Linked DNA regions of Homo sapiens. The protein of the gene in region 1 interacts with the protein of each later gene in a pairwise test. Each region holds a gene or a part of one and is shown in the gene's direction. Other genes may lie near its edges.

What was found.
Region 2: the proteins of TLX3 (region 1) and TRIM42 interact in binary tests that used the Homo sapiens proteins (3 or more experiments, as listed by UniProt).
Region 3: the proteins of TLX3 (region 1) and SERPINE1 interact in binary tests that used the Homo sapiens proteins (3 or more experiments, as listed by UniProt).
Region 4: the proteins of TLX3 (region 1) and FNTB interact in binary tests that used the Homo sapiens proteins (3 or more experiments, as listed by UniProt).

Annotation. Positions count from the first base shown.
Region 1 is NC_000005.10:171,304,436-171,312,253, forward strand, and holds TLX3 (T-cell leukemia homeobox protein 3), read left to right. Parts: upstream 1-4,812; 5' UTR 4,813-4,930; coding exon 4,931-5,351; intron 5,352-5,714; coding exon 5,715-5,958; intron 5,959-6,953; coding exon 6,954-7,164; 3' UTR 7,165-7,704; downstream 7,705-7,818.
Region 2 is NC_000003.12:140,673,983-140,681,090, forward strand, and holds the start of TRIM42 (tripartite motif-containing protein 42), read left to right. Parts: upstream 1-4,081; 5' UTR 4,082-4,247; coding exon 4,248-4,588; intron 4,589-7,108.
Region 3 is NC_000007.14:101,130,079-101,137,113, forward strand, and holds part of SERPINE1 (plasminogen activator inhibitor 1 isoform 2 precursor), read left to right. Parts: intron 1-342; coding exon 343-576; intron 577-1,796; coding exon 1,797-1,991; intron 1,992-3,616; coding exon 3,617-3,815; intron 3,816-5,415; coding exon 5,416-5,516; intron 5,517-5,636; coding exon 5,637-5,723; coding exon of another isoform or gene 5,724-5,738; intron 5,739-6,901; coding exon of another isoform or gene 6,902-6,922; coding exon 6,923-7,006; intron 7,007-7,035. UniProt on the Homo sapiens protein: Serine protease inhibitor. Inhibits TMPRSS7. Is a primary inhibitor of tissue-type plasminogen activator (PLAT) and urokinase-type plasminogen activator (PLAU).
Region 4 is NC_000014.9:65,059,878-65,063,168, forward strand, and holds the end of FNTB (protein farnesyltransferase subunit beta), read left to right. Parts: intron 1-1,303; coding exon 1,304-1,435; 3' UTR 1,436-2,773; downstream 2,774-3,291. Other genes in the region: CHURC1-FNTB protein, read left to right, coding at 1,304-1,435. UniProt on the Homo sapiens protein: Essential subunit of the farnesyltransferase complex. Catalyzes the transfer of a farnesyl moiety from farnesyl diphosphate to a cysteine at the fourth position from the C-terminus of several proteins having the C-terminal sequence Cys-aliphatic-aliphatic-X.

The DNA of each region.
Region 1 (7,818 bases):
AATGACGAAAATCAATGGGTAGAGAGGATGATGGGGTGAGGGTGCTGCTCTGGAGGATGGGCAGAGAGGTGAGGGCTGGCCTGGGTTGTAAAGGATGCAAGGAACCAGCCATAAGCAGGGCTGGGGGAGGTGAATGACGAACTGAGTGCACGCAAATGCCTGCGCCCAATTCTGACCCCTTTTTCTTATCCCTTTGCCTGACCTTGCTTTGTGCTATTGAGTTTAATACCACAAACTCTTGATAATGTCCTCCAGTCCTCCACGCCCTGGACCCAGCCCTGGGACATGGGATCAAATGCCACTAACAGCATTTTGCCCAAAAGGAACTCCCAAGCCAGTAGGGGAGACAAGTGAGCCCCACTATGGCCAGCCCTCACCGCCACTCTTGGGCTCATTCACCCGGACCCTGCACTGCTTCCCCTCCCCACTCAGTCCTGTGACTTAAGAGTCTTTACCACCTACCCCCAAAGAGGGGTGTGAGGTAAAGGGGAATATGTGGGCTTTGTAGTCTAAACAGTCCTGGGTTCAAATCCCAGCTCCACCCCTGTCTACTACATGCCCTTGGACAAGAGACTGTTTCCCTAAGTCAACTGTCCTTGAAGCCTCGTGACCTGCAGTGGGGGGTCCCAAGCAACAGCCGACATCTGAAGGCCTTTTCCTTCCACTGGCTGGCAGAGTCTTGAGACTGATCAGACCTCCTCAGGAAGGTTCTTCCCTAGGTCCTGCCCACTGGGGGAAGCAGTGATGAAGAGCTCAGACTGCTTTGTGCCCACTGTTAGATGGGGAAAGCAAGCCCCTGCACTGGGGAATGGTCCAGGAAATGTGAGTAGGTGCTCAGTAAATATTCGTTGAATAAATAAATGAATGGGCGAATAAATTTCGGCAAGTGTCTTTAGAGCCTCCCATCAGGAAAACTGGAAGGGCCCCTAGGGACTCCTAACTAGGGTGTGTAAGCCAAGAACAGCATGGCAGGTCAGCAACCTGTGACATGGTGTGTGTGCCAAATTATGTGTTTCTGTCTTTTTCTATGGAAGCAGACCACAATATTTTCATCCGTGTTTCAAATAGGGTAGCTGACCCAAATACATTTAAAGTCCTGATTCAGTCTCTACCCCATTTCACAGACAGGGAAATGGAGTCTCATTTCCCTCAGGAAGTCAATGGCAGAATGATCCTGGAGGAACCTGGCCTCCCACAGCTGGGCTCATGGGCCAGCTGGAAATCCCAGCATCTTGCCTGTCATCCCTGAAGCCCCACCCTCTTCTAGATGACTCTCGGCAAAGCCTCCACCAGCTGTACCCCTTTCTTCCAGCTTCTTCTTGGGGAAGAGGAGAGGATGTGCTCCATTCTGAAAGTCTCTCTAGCCCCGGGAATCCTCATCCCCAGTTCTTACAATTCTCATTTCCTAATCTCTTTCAGTGTGTATGCCTCACTGATCAAGTGACAGCAGGTAAATTACAAGGGCAGCAAGAAATTACAACCTCAGGAACACCAAATACATATCAGAACATACCTGGCCAAAACAGTGCTTAGAGGAAAACGTATGCCCTTGAGTGCATTTATTTAAAAAGAAAGAAAATTGACAAATTAAATTTTCAACTCAGCAAAGAAGGAATAAATCTTTTTTTAAACCGCAACATTCACGAAAGAGGTGGCATCTTAAAAGGGGATAATGACATCAAAGGCTTTTTTAAAAACCAACAAAATAACAAACCTTTGGCAAGTATGATCAGGAGAAGGCATGAATGAGCGACACGGGGAATGAGAAGTGGAAGGCATTAGTACAGATTCGTATGAGAGTTGCAAATTCTGAGAGAATCTTCCCACAATGTTACAACAACACATTTGAAAACTCAGATGGAATGGACCATATTCTGGGCACTGGCTTCCAGAGTTGAGCAGGCATCAGAATCACCTGGAGGGCTTGTTAAGCACAGACTGCCGAGTCCTACCCCAGAGTGTCTGATGCCGTAGGTCTGGCGAGGGTCCAATAATTTGCATTTCTAACAAATTCTCCAGTGATGCTGATGCTGCTGCTCTGGAAACACACTCTGAGAACCACTGTCCTAGGGACTAACCAAGTTCCCCCCATTCCTGAGCTGCCTAAGAGCTATCTGGATAGGAAGTGAAAGGAGGCTTATAATTAGTGGCCCAAAGCTCCTTCATCTGTATGACAGGGCTGGACGATGAGGGACCGTGGATCTCAGGAAGCCGGAAGCCAAGCAGTGAAGCAGAGCCCTGACCCGTGCCAGGCTTTACCTGGGGCGCTTATTTAATCCCATGAGGTTTATTTACCAGATGAGAAAACTGAGGCATAAAGAGGATGAATAATTCCCTGAGTCCACAGCTGGTAAACTGAGGTGGGAATCCCATTCTTAAGCACACAAGCTGGGAGCAGCGCTGTGCCACCCACGCCTTAATTCTGTGCCACAAACCTCTGTGCGGTGGGCCTTGTTGTCCTGATTTAACAGTGTCTGAAGTGACAAGGGCAGCCCTGAGTCCCGGGCACTGGAAGCCAGAAGGGAAGTGGAGCTGGTGAGGTGCCAACTCCAGCCCCCAAGTGGGGAGCTGTGCTTCCCTTGAACTCTCAAAGCCTCAATTCCCTCATTAGTGAGAAATTGGGGCCACTAACAGCCCTTTCCTCACAGGGTCATTGTGAAGAATAAATAAGTGTCCACCTCCCTGCCTGGCACAGGCTAGGGTCTCAGCTACAGTAGCTTTATAGTTGTCATTAAAGTTATTATGATATAACCGCCAGAGTTTCACACAGGCACTGCCACAGATGTTATCTCATTTTGTTCTCACAGCCACCCTGGGGGTAGCTGGTGCCCTTTTTGTTTTACAAATAAGGAAAATGCGGTTCTGGGAGGGGCGGTTAGGGACCCACACTGCCAGTGGCAGAGCCTGAATTAGAAGCAGGAGGCCCCCTGGAGCCAGGGCAATGGCATCTACCCCATCTGAGGGTCGTTGTCGCTGGAAGGGAGTGAGGGAGCACTTGCCCAGACCCCAGACATCCTGCAGCTCTCACTCCTCACTGTTGGGCCTCCCTCTCCACACCCACCAGGAAGGCTTAGCAAGGGCCAGGAATTTGCCCAAGGTCACACAGCGGGCAAGTGACCTAACTCCAGACCCAGGCCTGGAGGCCCTGCAAATCCTGACGCCTTTGGATTGTTGGGAGAAGAGAGAAAGAATCCCCAACCTGCACCTCCTGTCTTTCCCCGTCCTCTGAAACTGACCCTACTGGTAGACAAATACACCTTTCTCTCCAACGTACTGAGCCCCTGCAAATAAAATTAAACTGCCAACAAAATAAACAAGAGTCACAACAATAATACATCAGCCATTACTCTGGGGGGATAGAGTGGGAGGTGAGCCACGCTGCCCAGTGCCTACTACGTGCCAGGCCCAGTGCTCTGCGCTCCCTCAATATCTCACTCGCGGCTCACGAACAACCCGCATGCATGCATTATTTTCCTTTTTTGCAAACGAGAAAACCGAAATCTAAATATATAGAGTCAATTTCTCAAGGTCACTCAGCGAGGAAATGGCCAGTCCAAATTTGAACACACTTCTGGCCAACAACAGCACATCCGAGCTCTCACCACTGTCCACACCACAAGGAGCGGGAGGAAGAACCCAGGCCAGGGGTGCGACACTCAAAGAGTTTGCACCTAACGATTTTAGAATTCGCTGGAAGAAAATGATTCCGCTTGTCTCCCCAAAGCTGCAGCGGAAGGTGACTACTTCGTGTGCGGTCCTGTCCACGGTGCCCTGGGCCGGGTAGACAGTCACTGAGGCGCGAGCAGAACGGGGAGTGGTTCCAGCGCCCAAAGTGGACTGGAGCCGGGAAGGGCTCACCAGTCGCGTTTCCCAAAGAAATCCCGCAATTTGCTCTAGGAGCTGCCCGCGCCTTTGACATTCAGGAACCCGAAGTCCCTAGACCCGCCGAGCCGCGAGCGGGTTCCCACGCGCGACCACAGCCCCCTTCCATCCTGCAACGAATTACGAGAGTCAGGTCCCCGCTCCCCACCGGGCGACCCCGCGTCCCTAGCCCAGCCGCAGCTGGCACGCGTGGGCACCTGCGAGTCACGCCTCGGTCCGCCTGGCCGGAGCCAGGGAGTGTCTCCAAAGTGGCCGCGAGGCCGCGGCCGAAACCCGGGCGGGGGCGAATTCTCCCCACGCGGGTCGGCGTCATCCGGGGCGCGGAGAACGCTACGGTGCTCCCCTCGCCCCGCGCGCAGGCAGCGCGAAGCCTGCCCCGGGTAGTGCGCCCCTTTCGTTCCTCCGGCGGCGGTAGCGTCCAAGGGGCTTCTGCGGATTCCGCCGGGTCGTCCCGGGGTTGCAACTCCATTGTACCTGAAAGGATGCATTTGGTTTGGCTTTTGCTCAGATGAAAAAAAAAAAAAATTGGAAGAAAACGAAAACCCACTCAGCAAAAGACAATTTCACAAGCGGAGCGCTCTACCCACCCAGCGCGGTGTCTGGGAAGCGGCCCGGCCCGGAGGAGCGGGGAGCGTCTGCTAATTGCAGCTTCGTTAGATTTCGGGTTTGGGAGGCTGTGGTTCGGGCTCTAATATCCGCCGCCCATTATCCCTGCTAATAAATTTGACCTATTGTTCGTTTGTTAAAATGATGTCACCTTGGAACAGTCCCTAAGCTCCTATTTCCATGAATTAGGCCTTTATTGAAAGCCGGGAGCCAATGAGAGGAGAGAGGCTTGTTGATCGCAGCCAATGGCTGCGGCAGGAGAGGAATTAGCAGCGGAAACTCCAGGTTCGGTTCAAGAAAGATGACACAGAGCCTGTCGGGCCCGCGCACTCTTGGCAAAGTTTCAGTGCGACGAGAGGCGCCGGGCGCTCCATGGCCGCGCCGTAACGGGGACCCAGCCGCCTCCCCGCCCAGCCCAGCCCAGCCCTTCCGCCCGCCCAGGATGGAGGCGCCCGCCAGCGCGCAGACCCCGCACCCGCACGAGCCCATCAGCTTCGGCATCGACCAGATCCTTAACAGCCCGGACCAGGACAGCGCACCCGCCCCGCGGGGCCCCGACGGCGCCAGCTACCTGGGAGGGCCCCCCGGGGGCCGTCCGGGCGCCACATACCCGTCTCTGCCCGCCTCCTTTGCGGGCCTCGGCGCGCCCTTCGAGGACGCGGGATCTTACAGTGTGAACCTGAGCCTAGCGCCCGCAGGCGTGATCCGGGTGCCGGCGCACAGGCCGCTGCCCGGGGCCGTGCCACCGCCTCTGCCAAGCGCGCTACCCGCCATGCCCTCCGTGCCCACGGTCTCCAGCCTTGGCGGTCTCAATTTCCCCTGGATGGAGAGCAGCCGCCGCTTCGTGAAAGACCGCTTCACAGGTGAGCAGAGCTGGCGACCAGGCTCCAGGCCTCCGCCCTCTCGGGGCCAGAGGCGCCGCGCCCTGTGCGCTCCACTCCCGGAAACCATTTCAGAGGCCCAAGCGCGGCGGAGGCCTCGGCCCCAGGGCCCCGGGCAGCCGTGGTGGGGAGGGTAATCGGAGAGTTGCAGGAAAATAAGCCCGTGCCCGGGGGAAGGGACAGGGGGCGAGGGGGTCTCCCGACCGGCTTGGTGTCTCTGGAAACGCGCGCGACCAGCGAAATAGCGGAGCTCTCCGTGTCCCACGGGGCGCCACGGGGTCCGCATGGGGCCTGAACGGTGGCGGAGCCGGGCTGGGCTTCAGGGGCCCTCCTGTGTCTCCGCAGCGGCGGCCGCACTCACGCCCTTCACCGTGACCCGGCGCATCGGCCACCCCTACCAGAACCGGACGCCGCCCAAGCGTAAGAAGCCGCGCACGTCCTTTTCCCGGGTGCAGATCTGCGAGCTGGAAAAGCGCTTCCATCGCCAGAAGTACCTGGCCTCTGCCGAGAGGGCGGCGCTCGCCAAGTCCCTCAAAATGACGGACGCGCAGGTCAAGACCTGGTTCCAAAACCGGAGGACCAAGTGGCGGTGAGAGAGGCCTGACCCGGCCCACCTTACACCTGCCCTTCACCTGTCCCGCCCCGAGCCGCAGCCTCGCACTAGCCCTATTTTAAGGCTATCCACTACCCCCGCCCCCCTCTGCCTCCCCCAAACACACCCCCACCCCGCCTTCGCAGATTGTACCTCTTCCTTTCACCCTTCTCGCTGGCCTGTGCTTCTCTCTCCATCGTGGTCTCCCACGCCTTGGTTTCTCCTCCATCCCCATCCCCATCTTTCGTGAGCCCCTCCAACTCTCTCCCCGTGTTTTGTACGGTCTCCTGCGTTCACTTGATTTCCTCTCACCCACCCCCGCCCCAAACACACAGGCACACACACACACACACACACGCGCACACACACGGGCCTCTCGCACTCTCCTTCTCCTCCTTCTTCCAGCCCGCCCTCTCGGATTTTCAACAATCCTCGTGGACGCCGGTTTCCTCTCCCCCCATCTCCGCGTCTCCATTCCAGCCGCGTTTTTATCCGATCTCTGTTTTGATTCAACCCGTAAACGGCGAAGCGATCGCGTCTGGAAAGGGGTTCAAGACAGGCCCTGGGCGAACTGGATGAGACTGACCCAGCCCCCGGGCGTCGTGCGGGTGGTGCAGAGCCAGCCTGCTCACCCGCGGACCCCAGCGACCCCGGTTCCCGCAGGGCCAAGTCAGTTACACATAGGCCCTGCCCTTGCTATCTGGCGAAAGGAACAATCTTTATTGTTGGTGAAGCCACAATACCCGGGCGTGCAGGTGGGCGGCGGGCAGAGTCCCCTCCTGGAGACCCTCTGGCACACAACAAAAACAAATGATCCTAACCGGCTCCCTGGATATAAGAGCCTCGGGCGTAAAGCGCGGGCTGGGAGGCAGACGGGTTCTGCGCCTCGAGGCTCCCGGATGGCCTCGGCTCCCGGGAGGGCCGGGGCCCCGCCGGCGGCCCCGCGGTGCCGGGTGCATGACGGTACTGTCCCTCTCCCTCCCCCGGTGCAGGCGGCAGACGGCGGAGGAGCGGGAGGCGGAGCGGCAGCAGGCGAGCCGGCTCATGCTGCAGCTGCAACACGACGCCTTCCAAAAGAGCCTCAACGACTCCATCCAGCCTGACCCGCTCTGTCTGCACAACTCGTCACTCTTTGCTCTGCAGAATCTGCAGCCCTGGGAGGAGGATAGTTCCAAGGTTCCCGCTGTCACCTCCCTGGTGTGAGCCCACCAGCGCGCACCGTCGCCACGGATCGCCGCCCCCACCCAGCCGGGCGCCCCGGACCCCCCAGGCGGGCTGCGGGGGAACCGGCGCCGAGAGGGGAAGGGGCCGCCTAGCCCGAGTAGGCCCCAGGGCGCGGCCACAGACTGGCGGGCCGCGGAAGGGGGTAGGGCCCGAGCTCCGCGCGGCCGCACAATCCGAGCCCCCGCCCCGCGCCCCGTCCCGCCCCAGGCCCGGGCCTGACAAGAAAGCGCCTTACGTTTCTCCGCCCCCCGCCCGCACCCCCCGGGCCGGGCGCCTGTATTATACTTTGTACTTTTGCCCAAACGTGTAAATAATAAAAAAGTTTTGGCTTTTTTCTTTAGAAACCGGCCACCTGCTTCCCCCGCGGGGGCCGCTGGAGGAAGGGCAGCCGACCCGGCCGCTGGGGGAAGTGCCAGGGGCCCGGGGCACCCTGCGTTTAGGCTGGGTCCACTCTTCTTCTTTTCCGTTCCTTTTATTTAAGTCTTTTTATTTAATAAAAAAGTTAGCTATTTCACTTAACGCCGCTTTTATTTCGTTTTCGTTCCAATAATGCTCGGCGACCCCCGGCCCTGCGCCCCACCCCTGCGGCGGTAGAAGCCGAGCGGCGGCGCGCAGGGCGCGTCCACTTCCGCA
Region 2 (7,108 bases), on another chromosome or scaffold:
ATACTATTCCATGATGTATATGTGCCACATTTTCTTAATCCAGTCTATCATTGTTGGACATTTGGCTTGGTTCCAAGTCTTTGCTATTGTGAATAGTGCCACAGTAAATATATGTGCACATGTGTCTTTATAGCAGCATGATTTATAATCCTTTGGGTATATACCCAGTAATGGGATTGCTGGGTCAAATGGTATTCCTAGTTCTAGATCCCTGAGGAATCACCACACTGACTTCCACAATGGTTGAACTAGTTTACAGTCCCACCAACAGTGTAAAAGTGTTCCTATTTCTCCACATCCTCTCCAGCACCTGTTGTTTCCTGACTTTTTAATGATCACCATTCTAACTGGTGAGAGATGGTATCTCATTGTGGTTTTGATTTGCATTTAAGAGAAACCAATTTTTCTACAAATTAATTTGAGTGCCATTTTGTTCCTACCAGGAACTTGATGGGAATCACAGGTTCCTGTATATTTATAAACCGTATATTTACTTCAGAATAATAAATCATATTGTCTTAGTCTGTTAAAAAATTTCTCAACAGAATACTAGCAATCCAAATCCAACAAAATATAAAATTACATCATTATGAAATGGGATTTATGTCAGGAACAGAAAATTGACTCAACATATGAAAATCAAATAATTAATTTGATTATTAAATTGACTCAGCATATGAAAATCAAATAATACAACTGAATCTGATAAAAGGACATCTGTAAATAACCGACAGCGAATGCCATAGTTAATGTTGAAAAACTAAAATTTTTTCCCTTAAGATTAGGAACAACACAAGGATGTCCACTCTTGCCAATTCTATTTAACATTGTACTTGAAGATCTAACCAGGGAAATTAGGCAAGGAAAATAAAAAAGGGCCATCTAAATTAGAAAGGAAAAACTGAAAATATCTTTATTCACAGATAACACAAAGTTATATATATAAACCCTTTAAAATAAATTTTAAAAATAGAGCTAATAGTGATTTCAGCAAGGTTGCAAGATATACACAGAAGTCAATATAAATGGCCCTATTAAAAATCAGTTGTATTTCTACACACTAACAATGAACAATCCAAATATAAAGAAAATCAATTTTATTTACAGTAGCATCAAAAGAATGAAATGCTTAGGAATAAATTTAACCATATAAGTGCAAGACCTGTACAATGGAAACTACAAAATATTGTTGAAAGAAATTAAAGGTGACCTAAATAAATAGTGAAATATTCTGTGTTCGTGGATCAGGAAACTTAACATGGCAATTCTCCCCAAATTTATCCACAGACTTAATGCAATAGCTATCAAAATTCTAGTGGACTTTTGCACAAAAAGTAGTAGTGCTGATCCTAAAATTTATATGAAAATACAAGATAATGTTAAAACAGAAACAAAAGTGGAGTACTCACACTTTCCAATTTCAAAACATACTACACAGCTGCAGTAATCAAGATGGTGTGGCTAGCACAAGGATAGACATATAGATCAAAGAAATAGCATTCAGAGTCCAGTAATAAATCATATATCTATGGTGAGTTGATTTTCAACAAGGGTTTCAAGACTACTCAATGGGAAACAATAGTCTTTTCAACAAATGTTGCTATGGCAATTGGATATTCACATGCAACAGAATGAAATTGGGCCCCTAACTCCCACCAAATACAAAAACAATTCAAAATAATTCAAATACCTCAGTGTAAGAGCTCAAACTATAAAGCTATTTATTATAGGATTACATAGGTGTAAATCTTCATGGCCTTGGATTGGGCAGTGGTTTCTTAAATGACACCAAATGGGCAAGCTACAAAAAAAATAGAGATAAATTTGACTTCATCAAAATTAAAACCTTTTGTGCTTCAAAGGACACCATTTAAAAATGTAAAGACAACCATAGAATGGAGAAAATAGATGCAAATCATATCTGGTTAGGGTCTAGTATCTAGCTAATACAAAGAGCTCTGACAACTCAACAATAAAAAGATATTAACTCCATTTTTAAATGGGCAAAAGATTTAAATAGACATTTCTCTAAAGAAGGCATACAAATGTCCTATAAGGACATGAAAAGATTCTCAACATCACTAGCCATCAGGGAAATCCAAATGTAAATCACAAAGAGATCCTACTTTATACCTACTATAATAGCTATAATCAGAAGAAAAAAAAGACAAGAAGTTTGGAAAACGATGTGGAGAAATGGTAATTCTCATACATTGCTGGTGGGAATGTAAAATTGTGCAGTCACTTTGAAAAACAGCTTGGCATTTCCTCAAAAAGTTAAACATAGGGTTACCATATGATCCCACACCTAGGAACCTACCCAAAAGAACTGGAAACATATTTCTACAAAAATGCTCACACAAAAAAAATGTATACACAAATGCTCACAGAAACATTTAAACATTTAACAGCTAAAACGTGAAAACAATCTAAATGTCCATTAACTGACAATGAATACAATGTGGTATATCCATGTGAAATTATTCAGCCATAAAAAAATACTGATACATGCTATAACACAGATAAACCTTGAAAACATTATACTAAATTAAAGCCAGACACAAAAGCCACACATTATATGATAGCATTTATATGAAATCTCCAGAATAGACAAATCCATAAATACAGAAAAGTAGAGTAACTGCTAAGGGCTGAGGGAAAGGAGGAACAGGGAGAGACTGCTAATGAGTGTTTTACGGGGGTGATGAAAATATTTTGGAATTAGATAATGGTGAGAGTTGCACAATTTTATGAATATACTGAAAACCATTTAATTGTTTACTCTAAAATGGTGACTTTAATGGTAAGTGAATTACATATTAATAAGTTTTTAATAAGACCTTATAGAAACCAATAGTGAAAATGTATCATAAATCTGGGAATGAAACTCTAACCTATGTGCCTGGAGGATGGAGAGAGAGATTGATAAAACTGAGTTTTGGCAAACGTGAGGAAAAGGAGTTTCACTTTTTTGAATGTTGTATGTTCCTTGCTGGTATTAACTGGCACATTTATTTGAGTAAGAAATTTAGCAGTTTGCCTTAAAAAAAGATAAAGGACATACCCTAAGAGCCGGGATTTTCACTTGTAGAAATCTAATATCAATGTGTGGCTGGCATAGTTGGCACTCAGTGATTTTCTCTATTATAAAGGTGATAACCATAGGGGGAGATACTAAATTATGCAGTAAATTCCTGCAGCTAAACTCAGCTCTCACTTCTGCTTCTTTTTCTAAAAACAAGACAGTATTCATACTATAATGTACTATGACCATGAAATTTCTGTTCTTTTAATCTTTGCAAGCTGCTTAAATGGGAAGGTGAAATTCTTCCCTAAAATATAGGGTCTTTTTTCTAGGAATACTGAGCATATACTAGCAGAACAGTTAAAGATTTAATGTAGAGTTCCAGCCTCTTTTTGGAGTGGGGGTAGGATGGGGAAAAGACAGAAAGCTTGAACCTCACCCAAACACCATGCAGCTACAAAAAACCCAAGAAATATTCAGAGTGACTTAAGTATAAAGCTTCATGAAAATGAGCAGCGACTATGCATTGATTGATAAAATCAATTACTACTGAAAGAAGTTCCTAAGTGAACCTATATATTTTTTTCTTTAACTCTTTCTCTGAATGGTGATATCTCTTTAAATATGGCATTGCTATTATTTGTAAACACTGTCCTTTGTTCAAATAGAATTCTATCAATTCCTCTAACATGTGGAAAACCATGTGAATCTACTTTTCTAATTAACCATACCCAAGCCTTTCAGTCTACGAAGACATAATCTGAAGTCCACTTGTCCAAATTGCAGGCAGAACACCAAACAAGGAGAAATAGCTTCAGAAATCTACTCCATTATCCAAAAGGTGACAAATGACAACTAAACTTCCAGGATGCTCATTGCATCACCACTCCTCTACAGCTGGTTCCATGGAAGCATGGAGTTTCCACCAACATACCAGCTACCACCCACAAGGCCGCATCCTGCTATCTACCTAGCATGGTAGAGAGACAGGGATTGTGACATAAGCAAATACCCTCAGACTGATATATGTAAATGCCAGCCTATGAGCTTCCTGGTAGGGACACCAGCTGTGAAGTCCTCATAACAGCCAACTTCTTGCAACTTTCAAGCTGACGGCCTCAGGAATGGGAGGAAGGACTCCTCCACTGGAGAACTGATAGCAGTATTCTGGTAGAGGAGGCATCAAGAGTCCTGGGAGGCCGGTGGTAATCATGTAGGCACCATGGAAACTGCTATGTGCGTTTGCTGTCCATGTTGTACATGGCAGAGATGTTGTCCTCAGTTATGCTCCTGTCTGTGCTGCAAGTTCATCTTCACCTCAGAGCGGAACTGCACCTGCTTCCCCTGCCCTTACAAAGATGAGCGGAACTGCCAGTTCTGCCACTGCACCTGTTCTGAGAGCCCCAACTGCCATTGGTGTTGCTGCTCTTGGGCCAATGATCCCAACTGTAAGTGCTGCTGCACAGCCAGCAGCAATCTCAACTGCTACTACTATGAGAGCCGCTGCTGCCGCAATACCATCATCACTTTCCACAAGGGCCGCCTCAGGAGCATCCATACCTCGTAAGTGCCAGGCACCAGATGTGGGGCCGCATTGGGTCATGAAAACTAGGGACCACTTGCCAGCTGTGAAGTCTACAGGGCAGGCCAGTGAGCCTCTGAGTTCATTTCTTTATCTAAAAGGAGGAGCCAAGAATTTTGTAGCAATTAATTGTATCCTAAATGGTCACTATGTATGTAGACCATGAGCTCCAAATCTAAGCGCCATTAACTATGTAAATGAGCACTTCACTCTTCTGAACCCCAACTCTCTCATCTGTACAAAACAGTAATAGCTAATACTTAGTGCTTAAGGAACTTGCCAGGCACTTCATGCATGACCCCAGCTAACCCCTCACCCTAAGTCCACTGTTTCCATGAGGAAACTGATCCTTTGAGAAGTTAAGTAGCCCCAGGATCACACAGCTGGAAAGATACAGAGTCAGGATTGGAACCTAAAATTTGGGATCTTAACTTTAAAATGCTGTATTGCAAAACGGAGACAATACCCCCCCCATGATATTGTAGATATAAGGATTAATGTATGTGCTTTGTAATCTGTATGTGATATAAAAATATAAATTGCTCTTTCTCTTCCTATGAACTCTTAATACCTGTAACTTTTAATGGAAAAGAAAGAACTTCTATGGGGCACTTTTGACCCTGCGGACCATATAAATACCCCATACATCCATGAACTCCTACTACCTTCTTTTTCCCATCCAGAAGTCATAGTACTTAGGGTCTCAATTATTCATTTGGAGTGCTAACCCTTCATATCAGGTCCTACATTATCCTCACCTGCTCTACCAAACCAGTCTTTTTATGTCACACATGAGGGGAGTCTGAAGTAGTAAGAGCACACTTCTTAGAAGCGGAAAGATGACAGCACCATAAGATGACAGGATTAGAAGAGGCAGAAAAATGGAAGGCCAGTTTGAAGGCTTTCAAGCCTGGAAAAGCAATTCTGTGAGCAAAGGTTTGGTGAATTCAGGGGAAAGATATTATCCATCTTGCAATTAAACATTTAGTAGATGCTTAACAAACATAGCTCTCCACCCATGACCCTCTCATAGTGTTTGCATAAATAGGAAATCCAGGGATTCTCGATGCAAGTCTAGAAATCCTAAAACATGGAAAATTGTGTCCACACTCCTCTCTCAACTACCTGTTGTTCAGTTGTGCAACAGCAACTGAACCTCTGAGCCCATTTCAACAGGAAAGGGATAAAATTGGTGCTTTAGGAAAATGCCTTAGGCTCAGTAGCTCCCCAACGTTACTGTGCATTGAAGTCACCTGAGGATCTTTTAAAATTACTGATGCCTGATCCCCACCCCCCCAAACATTGATTTTATTGGTCTGGGGTACCATCTGAGCATCTGAATTAATTAGAATCAACCCCCCCACCCCGCTTCAGGTGATTCTAATGTGCAGAATGGCCTGCAGGAGGCTAGGAGGGAAGCCAGGAGATTTGATAGGTGGTACAGTAAGAATCCAGGTGCAAGAACAGGCCTGATTTTGGGAGACAGAGGGGGCTGTGCAGAGGAGCAGAGACAGGATATCTCAGCAAGAAGATAAAAGCGCTGGGCTTGATGACTGTTTTGAAATGGAACCATGGCCACTGAATGCCCCGTCCAAGCCTGAGGCTTTTGGAGGATGGGCAGGGATGCTACCACAAGTGTTAGGAGGTCGGCTCTGGGTGCTTTTCTTCAATCTGGCCTCTCTCCTGGCTTCTGACCCTCTGCCTCCCCTGCTTCTCATCACCACCTTCTGCTCAGCACCTTACTTGTCCTGCCTCACTCTGGTCTCATTCATCCCTCTCCATCTTAATCTTTTTGTCACTTCCTTTTTCACCCCTAACACAGCTCCCTAGGCCATTAATACCTGTCTCTTAGCCCTGAGACCTCTTTCTCATCCTCCAACACCTCCCTCCCCCACTTCTTCTTTCTTTTTTGTGAAAATGCTAGTTCATGAGCTTCCTAGTAGAGATACCTCCTGTGAAGGCCTCATAACAGCCTCTCTTTATATTATACCTTGATTCTCCAGGCCTTACTTTTTTAAGCAAACTAAAGTCCATCCAGGCACTACATGGACAATTAACCTGTACCACCAGGTGATCCCTTCAGGACCCATGCAGGAATCTGGGAAAGCAGAGAGGAAATAGAGGTGAGAACATCGAGGCCAGCATGCCTAGAGCTCCCAGATCCCTAAGGGACAAATTTTCCAGGTGCCTTAATATACACAGGGAGCATTCTCTGTCACCACAGGGCCACTCCATTCCAATATACTTGGGAAGCACCTGTGACTGTCAGGACTCAGACATAGGCTCCTGGCCAAGGGAGCAGGGAAGACAGGGACACATAAGGAATGCAAGAAGACAAAAGCAAAAAGGAACACAGCCGCAATGTCGAGATTAGTATCCAAATATTATTATGCAAACAGAGGAGATAGCAATAGCAGCAAATTGTGTGCCTTTTACACCTCCATTCCCACAGCTATTTCATTTATTTTTATACACTGCATTTGCTGATTTTAAGTTCTTAG
Region 3 (7,035 bases), on another chromosome or scaffold:
CATCGCGCCATTGCACTCCAGCCTGGGAGACAAGAGCAAAACTCCAACTCAAAAAAAAAAAAAAAAAAAAAACAGGAAGAAAATATTTAGGGTTCATAATTTAAGAACAGAGAAAAATATTCTAGCCCAAAGAAAGGGTTGGGATCTGAGACTTTTGAAGAAAGGAAGGAGATACAGAAAAGAGATTTCATCCTGGAATGAAATCTCCCTCCAGAGAGCCCTGGGAAAGCACGGTAGCCCCCATCCATCAGAGTGGAGCCCCTTGTGGGGGAAGTGGGCTCGGCTGGGAACCCTCAATTCAGCATAAGCCTCACATGTCCTCTCCTCTCTGTCCCGGTGCAGACAAGGGCATGGCCCCCGCCCTCCGGCATCTGTACAAGGAGCTCATGGGGCCATGGAACAAGGATGAGATCAGCACCACAGACGCGATCTTCGTCCAGCGGGATCTGAAGCTGGTCCAGGGCTTCATGCCCCACTTCTTCAGGCTGTTCCGGAGCACGGTCAAGCAAGTGGACTTTTCAGAGGTGGAGAGAGCCAGATTCATCATCAATGACTGGGTGAAGACACACACAAAAGGTGAGCAGGCAGGGAAAGGAAACCCATTTCCTGGGCCTCAAGAGAAAGGGAATTTGGAAATAAATCCACATATCCCAGTTGGGTGCAGTAGTTCACACCTGTAATCCCAGCCCAACACTTTGGGAGGTCTAGGCGAGAGGAAGGCTTGAGGCCTGGAGTTTGAGACCAGCCTGGCCAACATAACAAGACCTCATCTCTTCAAAAAATTTAAAAACCAGCCGGGCATGGTGGTGCACACCTGTAGTCCCAGCTACTTGGGAGGCTGAGGTGGGAGGATCACTTGAGTCCAGCAGTTCAAGGCTGCAGTGAGCTATGTTTGCACCACCACACTCCAGCCTGGGTCACAGAACAAGACCTCATCTCTAAAAAACAAACAAAAACCAAATCCACATATCCTAAAAAATGCTCCTTTTCAGCATTCTCTTCTCTATGGACAAAGGGCTGGATGCTTTAAGAACCAAATCTTAGGCTGGGCACGGTGGCTCACGCCTCTAATCCTAGCACTTTGAGAGGCCAAGGCGGGCAGATTGCCTGAGCACAGGAGTTCGAGACCAGCCTGGCCAACATGGTGAAACCCTGTCTCTGTCAAAAATACAAAAAATTAGCCAGGTGTGTTGGCGCATGCCTATAATCCCAGCTGCTCGGGAGGATGAGGTTCAAAGAATCACTTGAACCCGGGAGGCAGAGGCTGCAGTGAGCTGAGATCATGCCACTGCACTCCAGCCTGGGTGACAGAGCAAGACTTTGTCTCCAAAAAAAGGAACTAGACGGGTTCATTTAAACCCCTGACTGCAGCCCTTTGACATACATCCAATTGAGGACTGGGGACTCCGGGAAACATCTAAAAGGCTTAAAAACTTTGTCTAACTTCAGCCGGGCATGGTGGCTCACACCTGTAATCCCAGCACTTTGGGAGGCTAAGGCAGGTGGATCAAAAGGTCAGGAGTTTGAGACGAGCCTGACCAACATGGTGAAACCCCGTCTCTACTAAAAATACAAAAATTAGCCAGGCATGGTGGCAGGCGCCTGTAATCCCAGCTATTCGGGAGGCTGAGGCAGGAGAATTGCTTGAACCCCGGAGACAGAGGTTGCAGCGAGCCGAGATCGCGCCACTGCACTCCAGCCTGGCAATAGAGTGAGACTCCATCTCAAAACAACAACAACAACAACAACAAAATCGTCTAACTTCCTGATCTTCCTGATCATTGATTTTCCCATAGGTATGATCAGCAACTTGCTTGGGAAAGGAGCCGTGGACCAGCTGACACGGCTGGTGCTGGTGAATGCCCTCTACTTCAACGGCCAGTGGAAGACTCCCTTCCCCGACTCCAGCACCCACCGCCGCCTCTTCCACAAATCAGACGGCAGCACTGTCTCTGTGCCCATGATGGCTCAGACCAACAAGTTCAACTATAGTAAGTCCAAGAGCCCCTTCCCCACAGCCCACAGCAACTGCATCTCATTCCTGGGGTCTCCCAAGGAATACCCAAAATGTCACCCTCTGAGGGAGGAAGACCACAGGGAATGCTCCCCTTTAAGGGAGGAGAGACCCTAGAATATACTCCAGCTTTGACAAAGATTTCCCAAGCAGGAGACATCAGGATAATGGGAACAGAAGACAGGAGGTTTATCCCATGAAGGATGAAGAAGCTGAAATCCAGAGATTCCCTCAGGGCCACATTTGTCCACCTGACTCCAGGGTCTCATCTTCGTGTGTTGCTAGTGTGATTACCTGGGGATGAGAAATCCTGCTGGGGGAGTTGAGGTTAAGAGGATGAGGACTCCAGGTGCTGTGGCTCACGCCTGTAATCCCAGCACTTTGGGAGGCCAAGGCAGGTGGATCAGGAGTTTGAGGTCAGGAGTTTGAGACCAGCCTGGCCAACATGGTGAAACCCTGTCTCTACTAAAAATGCAAAAATTAGCCAGGTGTGGTGGCAGGCGCCTGTAATCCCAGCTACTCGGGAGGCTGAGGCAGGAGAATCACTTGAGCCCGGGAGGTGGAGGTTGCAGTGAGCCGAACGAAATTGAGCCACTTCACCCCAGCCTGGGCAAAAGAGTGAAATTCCATTCAAAAAAAAAAAAAAAAAAAAAAGGATGAGGACTGGGATGAACTGGTGGCTGGGTGTGGGGAAAATGGAAGTGAAGGAAGGCCAAAAGAGACAGAGAAGGCCTGGCGCGGCGACTCACGCCTATAATCCCAGCACTTTGGGAGGCTGAGAAGGGGGATTGCTTGAGGCCAGAAGTTGAATACCAGTCTGGGCAGCATAGCAAGACCCTGCCTCTACAAAAAAAAAATTTTTTTTAATTAGCCAGGCTTGGTGACATGCATCTGTAGTCTACTCAAGAAGCTGAGGTGAGGCCAGGCACGGTGGCTCACGCCTGTATTCCCAGCACTTTGGGAGGTCAAGGCGGGTGGATGACCTGAGGTCAGGAGTTCAAGACCAGCCTGGCCAACATGGTGAAACCCCATCTGTATAAAAATACAAAAATTAGCTGGGCATGATAGCAGGTGCCTGTAATTCCAGCTACTCAGGAGGCTGAGGTGGGAGAATCTATTGAACCCGGGAGGGGGAGGTTGCAGTGAGCCGAGATCATGCCATTGCACTCCAGCCTGGGCGACAGAGTGAGACTCCTTCTCAAAACAAACAAACAAACAAACAAACAAAATACAGAAGCTGAGGCGGGAGGAACATTTGAACCGGATTCGGAGGCTGCAGTGAGCTATGATTGCACCACTGCGCTCCAGTCTGTGTGACAGTGAGACCCTGTCTCTTACACACACACACACACACACACACATGCACACACACAGAGAGAGAGAAATTAGAAGATACTGAATTGGCAGAAGAGAAGGGAAATAGAAATTAAAATACTGAATAGGGGAGCAGTGAACAGGGGATACCCAAAAGCCAAGAGCGAGAGAGAGCCTGGCTTCCAGAAATAGTGGAGAAGCCAGGAGAACTAGGTGAAAACCCAGTGCTGGGTTGCCATCAGCGAGAGCTGGAGCCATTTCCAACGAACCATCTTGTCGTCTTCACAGCTGAGTTCACCACGCCCGATGGCCATTACTACGACATCCTGGAACTGCCCTACCACGGGGACACCCTCAGCATGTTCATTGCTGCCCCTTATGAAAAAGAGGTGCCTCTCTCTGCCCTCACCAACATTCTGAGTGCCCAGCTCATCAGCCACTGGAAAGGCAACATGACCAGGCTGCCCCGCCTCCTGGTTCTGCCCAAGTAAGCCACCCCGCTATCTCCCCGACCTACCAACCCCTCTCTCCTGGCTCCCTAAAGTCACCGCCCCCAGGTTGAATTTCCCAGATCTGTGATGCTTGCAGGACATGCATGTGTGGGAGGCTGATGGGAAACTGTGGCCTGGGTTTGATTATGAGTCTTGCAATCATCCCTCCCCCTGTTTCTGCTGGAGGGCAGGGGACAGCTCTTCCTGACCACACCCCCACATTGACTATCCCCAGAATACCCAGCAAAAGCCCCCAAAAGGAGAGTCAGAGAAATGAGGGAGGTGGGGGCCCAATCAGTCCACATCTACTTAGGGTCGCCCCATCAGCACTTCCATCCCCAACCCTTTCAAGTCAACATCCAAACAAAAGAAATCACTTCCAAGGACGGAGCAGCTCAAAGCGCAGCTTCTAGCTGGGGTTCCAAGAAAGCAGATTTTTCGAAATCCTTCTGCAGAAGGAAGCAAAGAGATTTTTTGAAATCTTTCTGCAGAAGGAGAAGGCTGGAGCTGGGGAACTCCAGAATTATAGGGAAGCCTCCCACCACGCTCATCCCAAATTTCCGGATGCTATAATGCCAGGCTTGGGGAAAGAGGAGAATTTAGTTGGTTAGCTGGTGCGTGCTCTCACTTGCATCCTCTCTCTTCCTCTTTTTTTTTTTTCTCCTCTCTCTCTGGCTCATAAAAATGGAGGTAATTAGTTGTGCCCTGGTGAGAAGCAGAGAGTGCACAAAGGCCCCCTGCTTGAGTCCTCTTCAGGGTTAGCTCTCAGAAACACAATCTGCAGAACAGATTTTTGTTCCAACATCCTTGCAGGAGAATTTGCCCTTAGCTTCCCCCACCCCAGCCAGGCTGAATAAAATTATGCTGAAACTACTGTCTTATTTGAGGAAAGTAATTAGTCATAGGTGGGAGGGGGTGGGGAGATTGCAGAAGAATGTTCATGAATATTAGGATTTTCAGCTCTAAGGGGGGACTTTGTAAACAGCTTTAGAAGAAGAACCAGGCCGGCTGGGTGTGGTGGCTCATGCCTGTAATCTCAGCATTTGGGGAGGCCAAGGCGGGCGGATCACTTGAGGTCAGGAGTTTGAGACCAGCCTGGCCAACATGGTGAAACCCTGTCTCTATTAAAAATACAAAAATTAGCCAGCCGTGGTAGCGAGCGCCTATGATCCCAGCTACTCCGGAGGCTGAGGCCAGAGAATCACATGAACCTGGGAGGTGGAGGCTGCAGTGAGCCGAGATCACGCCACTGCACTCCAGCCTGGGGGACAGAGCAAGAATCTGTTTCAAAAAAAAAAAAAGAAAAATAGGAAGGAAGGAAGGAAAGGAAAGGAAAGAAGAGAGAGAGAAAGAAAGAGAGAGAGAGAAAGAAAGAAAGAAAGAAAGAAAGAAAGAAAGAAAGAAAGAAAGAAAGAAAGAAAGAAAGAAAAAGAAAGGAAAGAAAGAACGAACGAACCAGGCCTCCCTCTCCAACCTTCACCTCCGTCCCTATTCTGGCCACTTGATTCGGGGGACACCTGGTAGGGGATGGGGAAAGGTGGGAGCTGCCAGCCAGAGGGGACCCCGGCTTGAGCAGCCTCTTGCTGCTATCTGCAGGTTCTCCCTGGAGACTGAAGTCGACCTCAGGAAGCCCCTAGAGAACCTGGGAATGACCGACATGTTCAGACAGTTTCAGGCTGACTTCACGAGTCTTTCAGGTAAGAAGACTTTCCTTTGCATTTTCTCACCCCAGTGGACTGCGGGGGCCCCTAAGAGGAAAAAGGAACCTCTCCTTGAGAGCGGCAGCTGATCTAATCCTGTATCCACATCTGTTTCAGACCAAGAGCCTCTCCACGTCGCGCAGGCGCTGCAGAAAGTGAAGATCGAGGTGAACGAGAGTGGCACGGTGGCCTCCTCATCCACAGGTGAGTCTGGCTCAGGTGAGGCTCCACGGGTGTCGCCTCCATCGCCCTTCAGGATAACTGGTCCCCAGACCCGGAAAGGACCCCGCAGCCCTCTCGGCACAGAGCAGCTCTGTCTGTGCTCAGCCATCACCCACTCCCCACCTGTTTCTCAGCCTGGAAAACGGGCTTGGGACCATGGAACCCTGTTTCCTCGCCTGATGGCTCCTAAGTTCCCTGACTGTGAAAAGGCCTCCTAAAGAAAAACCCAAGTTGTTCCCACAGTGGGAAGTAAACTTAAGAAACATGCTTATCAGGCTGGGCATGGTGGCTCCCACCTGTAATCCCAGCGCTTTGGGGGACCAAGGCAGGTGGATCACTTGAGGTCAGGAATTCGAGACCAGCCTGGGCAACATGGCAAAACCCTATCTCTACTAAAAATACAAAAATTAGGCAGGCGTGGTGGCATGTGCCTGTAGTCCCAGCTACTTGGGAGGCTGAGGCAGGAGAATCACTTGAATCCAGGAGGCAGAGGTTGCAGTGAGCCGAGATCACGCTGCTGCACTCCAGCCTGGGCAATAGAGCATGACTCTGAAGAAAAGAAAGAAAGAAAGAGAGAGAGAGAGAAAAGAAAGAAAGAAAGAAAGAAAGAAAGAAAGAAAGAAAGAAAGAAAGAAAGAAAGAAAGAGAAAGAAAGAGAAGAAAAGAAAAGAAAGAGCTTATCAATAAGCCCTTAAAGGATTTAGATAAATGTGTGTAAGGGAAGAGCTGATCCATTGCTACCAAGCTCCTGGAGGAAACCAGGTCTCAGAGGATGTCCCTAAACTTTTAAGGTTCATATTCAGGAAAACAAACAACTTCCAGCTGGGCTTAGTGGCTCACACCTGTAATCCCAGCACTTTGGGAGGCCGAGGCAGGAGGATCGCTTGAGCCCAGGAATTTGAGACCAGCCTGGGCAATATAATGAGACTGTGTCTCTACAAAAATTAGAAAAAAATTAGCCAGGCATGGTGGCATGCACCTGTAGCCCCAGTTACTTGGGAGACTGAGGTGGGAGGATCACTTGAGCCCATGAGTTCAAGGCTGCAGTGAGCCATGAAGGTGCCACTGCACTCCCACCTGGGCGACAGAGGGAGACCCTGTCTCTAAGAAAAACGGCGGGGGTGGGGGTGGTGCCAGTGCCAGCATCCCTCTGTTCTAAGACATTGTCCCTTCTCTTGCAGCTGTCATAGTCTCAGCCCGCATGGCCCCCGAGGAGATCATCATGGACAGACCCTTCCTCTTTGTGGTCCGGCACAACCCCACAGGTGAGCCTGGAACCCATCACGTTCCACAT
Region 4 (3,291 bases), on another chromosome or scaffold:
GGTTAGAGTGCAGTGGCACAATCTTGGCTCACTGCAACCTCCGCCTCCCGGGTTCAAGCAATTCTCCTGCTTCAGCCTCCCAACTAGCTGGGATTACAGACACTCACCATCATGCTCGGCTAATTTTTGTATTTTTGTAGAGACGGGGTTTCACCATCTTGGCCAGGCTGGTCTTGAACTCCTGACCTCGGGTGATCCATCCACCTCGGCCTCCCAAAATGCTGGGATTACAGGCATGAGCCACCGCGTCCGGCCCCCTTTTTCTTGATTATAAATGTAAATACATGTTTATTGTTTTAATAATTGGGATACATAAAATATAAAAAAGAAAATGAAAAACAATCATATCACTATTAATATTTTGGTATGGGTACAATTTTTGCTATTTATATACATCACAGGTACAAATACACTTTTTAAAAAGTTTGAGACCAGGTGTGGTGGCTCACACCTGTAACCCCAGCACTTTGGGAGGCCGAGGCGGGTGGATCACCTGAGGTCAGGAGTTCGAGACCAGCCGGACCAACATGGTGAAACCCTGTCTCTACTAAAAATACAAAAATAATCCCAGCACTTTGGGAGGCCGAGGCGGGCGGATCACGAGGTCAGGAGATCGAGACCATCCCGGCTAAAACGGTGAAACCCCGTCTCTACTAAAAATACAAAAAATTAGCCGGGCGTAGTGGCGGGCGCCTGTAGTCCCAGCTACTTGGGAGGCTGAGGCAGGAGAATGGCGTGAACCCGGGAGGCGGAGCTTGCAGTGAGCCGAGATCCCGCCACTGCACTCCAGCCTGGGCGACAGAGCGAGAGACTCCGTCTCAAAAAAAAAAAAAAAAAATACAAAAATTACCCAGGCGTGGTGGCTCACACCTGTAATCCCAGCTACTCAGGAGGCTGAGGCAGGAGAATTGCTTGAACACAGGAGGCAGAGGTTGCAGTGAGCTAAGATCGTGTCAATGCACTCCAGCCTGGGCAACAGAGCAAGACTCTCTCAAAAAAAAAAAAAAAAAAAAAAAAACAGTTTGAGATAGTATTGTACATACTGTTTTCTCACATAATATGTTGTAAGTATTTGCCTGTATCGTTAAATATTTAAATGCGTGTTTATAATGGCTGTATATTAACCTGTGTCCCATGTACTAGATAGTTTTAGCAAATACACCATTTTTGAACCTTTGGGCTTTGTGTGTATCTCTGATTCCTTATACTAAATTCTTAGAAGTGCCTTTCATGGAGCAAAGGATGTGTTATGTTTTCAAGGACCACCGGGGTGATTAACTGGCACCTTTTCTTCTCTTTGCAGCAGCCCACTCACCCAGTGTACAACATTGGACCAGACAAGGTGATCCAGGCCACTACATACTTTCTACAGAAGCCAGTCCCAGGTTTTGAGGAGCTTAAGGATGAGACATCGGCAGAGCCTGCAACCGACTAGAGGACCTGGGTCCCGGCAGCTCTTTGCTCACCCATCTCCCCAGTCAGACAAGGTTTATACGTTTCAATACATACTGCATTCTGTGCTACACAAGCCTTAGCCTCAGTGGAGCTGTGGTTCTCTTGGTACTTTCTTGTCAAACAAAACCAATGGCTCTGGGTTTGGAGAACACAGTGGCTGGTTTTAAAAATTCTTTCCACACCTGTCAAACCAAAAATCTATCAGCCCACGTGGTGTGGTTGGTGAACAGTGCATGCCAGGAGGAAGCAGTCCCTCCTCACCAGCTCTCCAGCCAGGACGATCACACAGAGATGAATGGCATCTGAGTATTACGGCATCCAGAGCCACTGCTGACTCCCACTTGCACGCCACCATTCAGTCACCAGACTGGGTGCCCTCCGATGGGTGGAATAAGTCTGCTTCATGCCAAGGCTGGGCTTTGGGTCCCACCAAGATGAGTTCTCTGTAAGACTGTGGTGGAGTTGCACCAGGAGGTGCCTCTGCCTCTCGACTTGCACCCTGGTCATTTGTAAGGGAAAAGAGCTGGAGGTGGGGAGAGAAAGATCTCCTTCAGTTGGGAGTCCTTCCACTTCAACACTGGAGAACTGAGCCTTGCATCTCTCCAGGGTCCAAGGCCACGCTTGGTGCACAGGCAAGACTTGCTTCAGCCCCAGGTGTGGTGACTTAGACCTAGGAAACCAATTATGAGTGGAAAGTGACCCTCTAGTTCAACTGTGCCAGAGGAAACAGCCCTCCAGTGCCCACCTGCCTCACTCCTCCCTATCATGTACCGTGAAAACCCCCTCTGATGGCCTCAAGGCAGTGCCTGCAGGCCGAGGCCCTTCTGGGGGTTTCTATCTTTCTTCCACCAGACTCCAAGCCCACTCTCCTCCAAGACTGTGTTGTCTTTTCTCACCAAGAGTATTAACACTACTAAGTCTTTCACCTTAACTTATGACTCAGGATTTATTCACGTCCTGCCCACTCTAGGCTCACAGGAATAAAATCAAGTGCTAGACACACTGGCTGCTACTAAGGCACTAGCCTCTGTAGCTGGTGGTGGCAGCGTGGGGTGCCGCCCAGCGTGCTGGGTCCTGGCAGTGCCTCTGCTGTGCTGCACATTGAGCCCTTTCTCAGTCAGTGGAGTATCAAGTTGGGCCATCTGTCTACTGACCTGGCCTTCATGTAAGCAGCTGTGGGCTGCGGGCAGACAGGAGCTCAGAGATGCAGCATGAGGCGCTTAGAAAAACCTGGCCATTTGCTGCCTCTAATTCCCTTTTGCTTTGCCATATTGGGCTATGTATTACCTCCTTGAAATAATAAAAGAATAACATTTTCTATGATGTCTCTTATTTGTGATCTGTACCAAGAAAATGCCCAATGGTAGGAGCTACTAAAGGTTGCTCAGGGATCGTCAGTCTCCTGTGTGCAGGATTCCAGACTGTTCACATCGGTGGTGACAGAGGAATGACCGAGTTCCATCCTCACATGCCGTCTCCTCCAGTAGAGGAAGCCGTGGGCCTAACAGAGAGTGGGAAGAGATGTTTTCCAAGCTCCCTGGGGTAATTCGGTATGCTATGTCCCAGCCCTCCACACACTGCACTTCATGGTCTGTCTCCGACAGACAGCAAGGACTGGGCCTAGTAGCCCCAGAGCAGGCTGACTTAGCAAGGGTGGGTGGATGTCTGGCCAGAGGCAGGGGCTGTCACAGGGACAGGCTGGAACTCTGTGGCCACTTGGCTTTCCCTTCCTCTGGCGAGAGACCCTCTCCCATGGGAGGCCAAGAACATGGATGTCCTGTGGCCTGACCCTCTTGGAGGGGAGAGAAGATGGTGTCCTTAGAGGGCACCCAAATC